Regions from separate parts of the Homo sapiens genome. Here region 2 is linked to region 1. A link means that fine-mapping ties the variant in region 1 to the expression of a gene that starts in the linked region. Tissue or cell type: lung. Region 1 holds a variant in brackets; the other region holds the start of a gene. All regions are shown on one strand. Distances are from middle to middle.

Evidence for each region. PIP is the estimated chance that this variant, and not a neighbour inherited with it, causes the effect.
Region 2: it holds the start of NPTXR, and the variant in region 1 is fine-mapped to the expression of NPTXR in lung (TOPMed, PIP above 0.99).

The regions. Positions count from the first base shown.
Region 1 is chr22:38,773,762-38,778,013 of GRCh38, forward strand. No RefSeq gene overlaps it. Among named protein-coding and RNA genes, the nearest start is that of DNAL4, 18 kb to the right of the region's middle. The variant C/G (reference allele first, on the strand shown) is at 2,493.
Region 2 is chr22:38,842,520-38,846,622 of GRCh38, forward strand. NPTXR (neuronal pentraxin receptor) reads right to left here and starts at 1,509. Exons shown (of 5, transcript NM_014293.4): 1 at 716-1,509. The coding sequence starts at 1,339. RefSeq lists a silencer at 1,028-1,097.

The DNA of each region.
Region 1 (4,252 bases):
TGATGCACCTCCTAGAGAAATCTATTCCATCCATCCACCCATCCACCCATCCATTCATCTATCTGTCCATCCGCCCATCTACCCACCCACGCATCCATCCACTCATCCATTCCTATTTTCATTCACTCACTTGCTAGTCACAATGCATTTTCAATTTATATCAGGCCCTGGGCTAGGCATTGGGGATGCACAGAGAGATAAGACAGCCCCAGCCATCGAGTAAATAAAGCATAGCAGGTATAGACACCATGACAGAAGATGTGGCACCGTGGGGACGCAAAGTGCCTATGTGTCATGGGTTGCAGCGGGGAAGGGGTTCTGGAGGAGCTGGTATCACTCTGAGCTGCTGATGTGCAGTGGAGACCTGAGGCCAGCTCCCATCCTGGCATGTCACATGTTCTCTATGACGCCATCTCCCTACTGTTAGGGGAGGGAGGAGTCGCATGGAAACTTCCAGGCTGCTTCATTGGCCATTTTGAGACTGGAAGGACAAACGCAGTGTGGACCCTGCTGGGTCAACAGCCAAGTCCTCCCACATAATTGCCATTGGGATTGTCTTTCTGGGTTCTGGTCCCAGCCACCTGGGGCCCTTGGTCACTGGACCAGGTGCATGTGTGTGTGTGGCCGCCCTGCCTCTCCTGCTTTGGCTCTGCAGGGGCCCAGTGCCTACAGGGGCTTAGAGATGATAACCTACCTACCTGGCACACCCCAGCCTTCCAGACTCCCAAGCCTCGCACCCAGAGTGGAGGCCCAAGGAAGGGATGGCCCCCCACAGCACCTGACCCAAATCTTTGATCAGCCCTTCCAACTTTAAAGCACACTCACATTCAGGGCCACTGTCTCCTGGGAGCCCTACAGTAACTTTGGGAAGCAGGCATAGCCGGAGCTGCGAGTCCTGTCTTGCAGGTGATGAAACTGAGATCTGAGAAGCGAAGTGGCTTGTTCAAGCTGGCAGGCAACCCTGGAGAGGGTTCAGAACTGTCACAGGCCTGCGGGGAACCCTGGCTCTGCCACTTAGGTTGTGGGTCTTCTCATCTGCATGAGGGGGACACTGAGGGCATCTCCTCACAGAATGGACGTACACATTAGGGAAGATGGGGTTGGTGAAATGCTTGGTGCTGTGCCTAGCACGTCTGAGGAATCTAATAGTTTGGGAATATTATTCAAAATGATTCGAGTCTTCTGCCTTCTAGGCGTGCTCTCCTTCCACCCCCACGGCCTTTCTAAGGATTGGAGATAGCAGCTGGCAGTGGGAGGTGGTTGTTTTAAATATGAGATGAGGAGAACGAAAGGAAATTAGGACAGGGTGGTGGCTTTTGTGGCTGCACTCTGACAACCCCCTCCCAAACCTGGACACAATCAGATGCTGCCTGCTTCTGCGCTTAAGGAGCTGAGCCTCTGCTGCACAGTTCTCACTCCTGCTGTGGGGCGTGGGTGGGGGACACTGGTTTGAGGGGGGCCCCCATAGCCCAAGGGCACACCCCCTTGCCTACCTGTAGGGTCTGTCCTCTGGAGAAGCAGGAAGTAGGTTAAACAAGATGCTGGAGTTTCTCTGCACCTCTTCCAAGGCAACATGAAATATTCACCAGATTTCTCCAAAGGCCCCGCAGAGAGCTTCAAAGCTGGCTGTCCCCGCGGCAGCACGCTCCCTTCCACAGGCGACACAAGGCCTCGTGACCAAGCCCTCACCCTCCACCTTCTCACACTGACTGCCTCGGCACCTCTTGCTCCCCACTCTTGGGAGGCCTGTGGTTCTGGAGTCCCAGCAAGGGGACCTATGGTTCACTCTCTCTGATCTGGCGGGGCACTCACTGCTCTCCCAGGCAGAGGGACAGGCCCTGGGGTTGGGGCCTGTGACTCCCTTTAGACATGTCCAGACAAGGTTTCCGATTTTTGCCCCACACTGACTCTGGCTGGGCCCAGCAGAGCGGACTGGGGTGTTAGTGGGGGGAGGCCCTCCTCCCCATACTGCAGATGGCAGCGAAGAGGCGGGGTTGGTGGCAGGCCTGTGGTCACTGCCTCCACTATAAATGCTGCAACTGCCGTGGAGGGTGCAGGGGAGGCCTGGCGATGGTGAGGGAAGCAGCTAGGAGATGGACGGCCCAAGGCGTGGCCAGGCCGCGGGGAGCCCAGCTGTCTGTGGGGGACGGGGCAGGAGGGAAGTGGACGGAAGGTCTGAGAATGCAGCGTGTGTGGAAGAGCAGGGACTATCCAGGCAGGCAGCCCAGGTTCAAGTCCCGGCTACAGCTGCTCCCTAGCTGGACCCTGGGTCAGACACTCCATCCTCCAAACCTGAGTTTCTCCATTTGTAAATAGCAACAGCAACCCCTAATTTGGAGGTCTGCTGAGAGTTACACATCAGGGTAAGCCCAGTGCCTGCCAAGTGGGGGAAGCCTCCTTCCTCCTGAGCCCCAGCAAACCCTTTCACCTTCAGCCCGTCCTCTCTCCCCACCCCCATATCCTCTCCCATCCACGGCCACTGCCCGGCTTCC[C/G]TGAACCCATTGTGAGCTTCCTGGAGCCCCCACTCTGCACGGGCGGCTGGTCCCTCAAACAATGGTGACTTCCCCCTCCCCACCCCCATCTCACCCCTTCCTGGGAAAATGCCAAGGCCCAGTTCAATGCCACCTCCTCTGTGAAGTCCTCCCCAGCCCCCTAGTGAGAGTCACTCTCTTCTCTGAACTCCAGATTCCCTGAACCCCGTCTTCTCTCTTCTGGCAAATGAACCTGTCTTGCTTTTCTGTTCCTGGGTCTGGCCCTCAGTAGCCTGTATGCTGGGTGGCAAGGACGGTGCCTTCTCCGTGGTCACGGACCTCTCCTTTCAGCCCATCATCAAATGCTTATTGAATGTTACGGGCAGCAAGGGCCCTGGAAGGCCAGGTGTCCACGTCTGGCATGGGTCTTGGGGAGTGGAAGTAAAGCCACCGGGGCCAAGGAAACCCCTGGGAAACACACCTGCCATGGTTCCGTCACCTGACCTGGCCCAACGGTGACCACACCATTGTCTGGGAGCAGGAAGGGGAGACTGTGAATGACCCATTTCTGGGAAGGCAAGTGAGGAGGGTTCTGCTGCAGTGACAGGAGTGACTAGGGTAGAAGGTTTGCTCGCCACCTGTGGTGCCACCGTACGGTGTGACTGTGAGGGCCAGACACTGCACAAGCCTCATCTCACTGAATCTCCACCCACCCCGAGGAGCTGGTGTCAGCACCCCGTCCACAGGTGGCAAGAGGAGGGGCACAGCGATAATGCGGTGCACACCTCGGGGGTGTCACCTGTTCCAGTTGCGGTCCCAGGCCTCCCGTCAACCTCGTGAGGTGGGTGCGGTGTATCCCCATTCTACAGACAGAGCCACTGAAGACAGAGAAGTTAGGAGGAGCAGGGCCAGACCCGAACCAGCTCTGCGGGCCTCAGCACCCACGCTCCTGCCACCCCCACCACCCTGGTTGCCGGCTGAGCCAGCCTCGCTTTTTGGCGCCCACGTGCAGCAGATGAAAGGAGAGAACAGATGCAGAGCGGGCGGTAATCAGCGCAGCTATTCTAGGCCTCGGCGCCTGCTCCCCACCTCCAGCGCCGGCCCCCGCCTCTCCGTTCACTCCCTTCTGCCAATCCCTCCGCAACACCCGAGTGGCACAGGGTTCTGGCCAGGGCAGGTCTGAGGCCAAGAAGCTGCCCCATCCGCCAAGTCCCAGAGGGCCAGGACCAGCTGGAAAGCCACCCAACCAGATGGTCAGCCTTGAGGCAACGACTGCGCCTTCTCGTTCTTGTCTGTCCCACTGCTCTTGGACCGGGTGCGCACACGGCAGCAACCTTCCCCTTGGCTGCATGGGTCTGGTCTGAGCAAACCTTACCTGCTCGCCATGAGGCTGCCCAGCCAATCTGTTGATGGATCTTGTTAGTGCTGGACGCTCAGTCTCACAAGGGTGGGACTGGGACTGGGATAAGGACAGGGCTTCAGCTCCCAGACCCATGTATCCTAGGGACCATCTCAGGAGGGCCCCTGTGTGCATGGGAAGGCGGGCTCTCCCCGCTCTCCCCACGCCCGGGGTGTTCACTTCTGAGGCTCGGATTCAGGGGACAACCCCTGAGGGGGCTTCACAGGCCTGCACGTGGCTCCTGTCCTCAAGTCACTTCTCATCTCCTGCGTTTACCCCAAGTGCCTTGGGGTAATGTCTAGTTTTCTGTCCTGAGAGCAGCCCTCTCCCTTGGTAAGATCCCGTTTTCTGTTCAAGCGTCGGCTGTCAGGCCTTACCCCAC
Region 2 (4,103 bases), 69 kb after region 1:
CCCAAGCCTGAGTCAGGAAAGCCTGGAAAAGTGAGTGGAGGAGGAGGAGCTCGGGGGGCCCTGTTCTCCATTCAGCCCCCACCCAAGAGCTGTGGGCTTCCAGGTGTGTGAGGCTGGGCGCCTGGCACCTGAGCTCCTGCGGTTTGGGTCATAGTCTGAGCCAGAGTGGGAGATTCAGGGTAGGGAGGTGGTGAGGGGCACCCAGGTTTGTCTTATAGGGCACTCTGTTCCCGGCTCTGTGTAATGAGGGGAGGACCCCAAGTCCTTTGGACAGCGCATCCATCTCCTGGCCATAAAGTGTGAGCGTGGAGCTGGGCTGATTTGGGGGTGTCCGGAAGAAGGAAATGAAAGGGACATTTAATGAGGTCCTAGTACGTGCCAAGCATTTTCACACACCTACATTTGATTCAATTTCCACTACAAGTGGACACTGTTATACCTATTTTACAGACACAGAAACTGAGGCTCAGAGAGGTGCCTGGAGACGGAAAAGGGTGGGGAGCGAATCTTTCTGGCGCGCCCTCTGTGCCTCAGTCACCGTGCCAGACGCCTGCCCGCGTTCCCTATCGAAATCCCCCCGCCTCGCCAGCGAGGAAGGCGCGATCGTCCCCGGAACACAGACGGGAGACCGGAGGCTCGGGGACCGCCGGACGACCGCGGCCGGGCGGCCCCTCACACCACCCGGGCGGCTCCCCCGACGGCGCGCGGCGCTCACCTCCAGGCGGTCGATGCGGTCCCGCAGGGCGCGCACGGCGTCCTCCAGCTCCAGAATGAGCGCAGGCGAGTCCCAGGGCCCGTCGGCCATGGTGTCGCGGCGGGGCCCGGCGCCCTGGAGGCCGCGCGGCAGGCCGCTCTCGCAGCGGCCCAGCTTGCCGGTGAGCTCACGGATGGTGTCCTGGTCGGCGCGGATGCGCGCCTCCTGCTGCAGCGCCGTCTGGCGCAGCTGCTCGGCCGTGCTCTGCAGCAGCAGCAGCTCTTCGCGCTCGCCCGGCGCAGCGCCCGCCGCGTCCCCCTGCTGGGCCCCCGACGGGCAGGCAGCAGCCAGCGGCGTGCACAGGAAGCGGCTGAACAGGGGCCCGGGCGGCAGCGGGTGCGCGCTGGCCGCGGGTGCCCCGGGCAGCGCGGGGGGCCCGGCTGAACCGCCCGCGCCGTGCAGCGCGCTCAGGCTCCGCTGCGGGCCCGGGGACGCGGCGGCGCCCGAGGCGACCGAAGCATTGTCGGCGCCGCCGGGCAGCGCCCGCGCCGGGCTGGCCGCCAGGGGCACGCTGGCGATGATGCAGATGACGGCACCGAGGAACGCCAGCATGCCCGCGGCCAGCAGCACGGCCAGGAACTTCAGCGTGAGGCGGGCGGCGGGGGCGCCCGAGGCCCCCGGCAGGCGCGGCGGCGGGGTCGGGGCGCGGAGCCCGGGCGCGCTGGGCCGAGCGGGGCAGGCGCGGGAGCCGGAGCCGGAGCCGGAGCCGGAGCCGGAGCTGGAGCTGTCGCCGCGGCCGCTGCTGCCGCCGCTCTGAGCCCGGGCGGCGGGAGGAGGAGAAGACGGCAGGCGGCGGGGAGGGGGAGCGGGCGCGGCGGCCCCGCCCCACTCGCTTCCCCGGGCCGGCCCTGGCCCCGGCCCAGCCCCGCACCCGTTCAGTGCCGGGCGCCCGGCTGGGGGCGCCGCCGGGGATGCGGCGAGGAGCGAGGGCAGCGCCTGGGACCTTATCTCGCCGCGGTCACAGCGCAGGGGCCGGCGACCCGAGGGCCGCGCGGCGGGGCTCCTGGGTGACCCCCATCCCAGCCCTCCCGTGCTCGGGCCCCCTCCCCAAGCCGGTTATGTTCACATCCACCCGGGAGGGAGCTTTCTTCCGGGTGGGGCTGTGCACTGGGCGCGCCACAAGCTCGGTCGCAATTGAGCCTTGCCGTGGACAGGCTCACAATAGAAATGAGGAAACTGAGACACCTGAGGTCAGGCCTCTGTCCAAGGTCACCGGGTGGCTGCGTTGGAGCCGCCTGCGAGCTTAGGCACGTTTCACCGGACCAGACTGTGGATGGGGCTGGAGTGGGAGCGGTTAGAGGTGGAGAAGAGGCCAGTGTTGGGGGTTGGGGGGAGGCTCGGATTTTGACCTAACTTCTGTTTATACTGTGGCCACCTGCCCGTCACCCCCACCTCCAACCTTCTGAAGGAGCAGAGTTCACTCCCCGCCACCCTCATTACAGAATCTTCCTGTGATCTCAGAGGATGATGGAAATTCTCTCCTCTGAATCCTTGGGGGCTTAGAGCCTCACAGGTCCAGAGAAACCCCCCACCCCCACTGCAGTCTGCCTTCGTTGGCAAGCGGTGCCACGTGCCTGGTGGGCATGTGGACCAGGCCCAGAAGGAACAGCAGGAATGGGAGTGGGCTGTGCTGTGGGGGTGGCAGAGGAGCGTTTTACTTTCTTCTGTCAAAAATGTCTATATATATTTTGTTGAAAATTAACTTTGCAATTAAAAACTTAAAAACAATCCTACTATCCTCCACACTTTATCCCCAGCTCCAATTTTCCATGAGGTCTTTCCTGACCAATACGGATTCCCAGGGCTGGAAGGGCCTTGGGAGGGCTGTGGTTATTCCCAGCTCTGTCTCCCTTCCAAGCCTGCATTTTTGACTTGAAGGGAAAGCGCAAACCAGGATCTCTGGACCACCACGGCTACCACTGTGGTTTCGAGTGTACTTCACATAGCGCTGGTGGTGGGGAGAGACCGGAATGTTTCCCAGGAAGCCACAACCCTGGGGGACGCTCTCCAGCCACGGGGATTTTGTCCAGTGTTCCCAGGCACACGTGCTCCACCTCCCTCTCTCCACACATGTTAGGATGATGTCCACCCTGTTCACCCATCTCTAGGAGCCAGGGATTTTCATCCATACCTGAGTTGTGAAAGAGGAGAGAAGCAAACACAAGCGCTGTATGCCAGGAACCTGAGTGCTGTGTGTGCGTGGATGTGTGCTGGTGCTCACTGAAGTCGTAACCTCAAAACCCAGGGCAGGCAGCTGGGCTTGGAGGAAGCATCTCATGGACAGAGAGATGGGCTGGGCTCTTGGAAGGCAAAGGCCAGCGGTAGGCCCTGCTAAAGTCCTGGGGATGCATGAGACATCGGGACTCCTGGTACATCTACACGTGTGCCGTGAAGACAGAAACACGGAGATAGCATCCCCAGGAGAAACTGTCATAGGAAGTCCAGGGAAGGACAGGAGATGCCAAGAGAGAGGGCTGCTGCCAAGAGCAGCAGAGCCACTGTGACTTGGGCACCAAATGGTGCCACCTTTACCTGAGCTGCCCCCTGAGACTTTGGGGACAGTTTGGATAAATGGGTCCAGAGGCTGGAGTCAAATTGTGTTTAAACTGGTCTGTTGATCTCCTAGAATGACTTTATTTTTTATTTTATTTTATTTTTGAGACAGAGTCTTGCTCTGTCACCCAGGCTGCAGTGCGGTGGCGTGATCTCGGCTCACTGGAACCTCTGCCTTGCGGGTTCAAGCAATTCTCCTGCCTCAGTCTCCCAAGTAGCTGGGACTACAGGTGCACGCCACCACGCCCAGCTAATTTTTGTATTTTTAGTAGAGATGGAGTTTCAATATGTTGGCCAGGCTGGTCTTGAACTCCTGACCTCAGGTGATCCACCTGCCTCGGCCTCCCAAAGTGCTGGGATTACAGGCGTGAGCCATGGCGCCCAGCCTCTCCCTTCTTCCTTGGCCCATCTCTATCCCCAGCATTCAGCATGAAGCCTGCCCAGGGAAGCTTCTCGGTGAATGTTTGCTGAACTAGTTCCTAATGCCACTGCTGGAGGCAGAGGAAGGAGGAGAGGACAGAGAAGTCCCAAAACTCGTCTCTCCTGGGTCCTGGGAGAGACCCCCCTTAATCCTAACACAGGATTCCTCAAGGGATGGGCAGAGAAGTATTCTCAGGGGAACTTCCCTAAAACTGGAATAGTTCCTATATTTTCCCTCTGAATTGTCATGACTCCTAGTTTTTTTTTTTTTAAATTTCTTCACTTTCATTCCATTCTTAGGCCAAGGGAATTCTGCCATATATAACAAATATAGGAATTCATTTTAGAAAATATGTTTTGAGACCTACATTGTGCC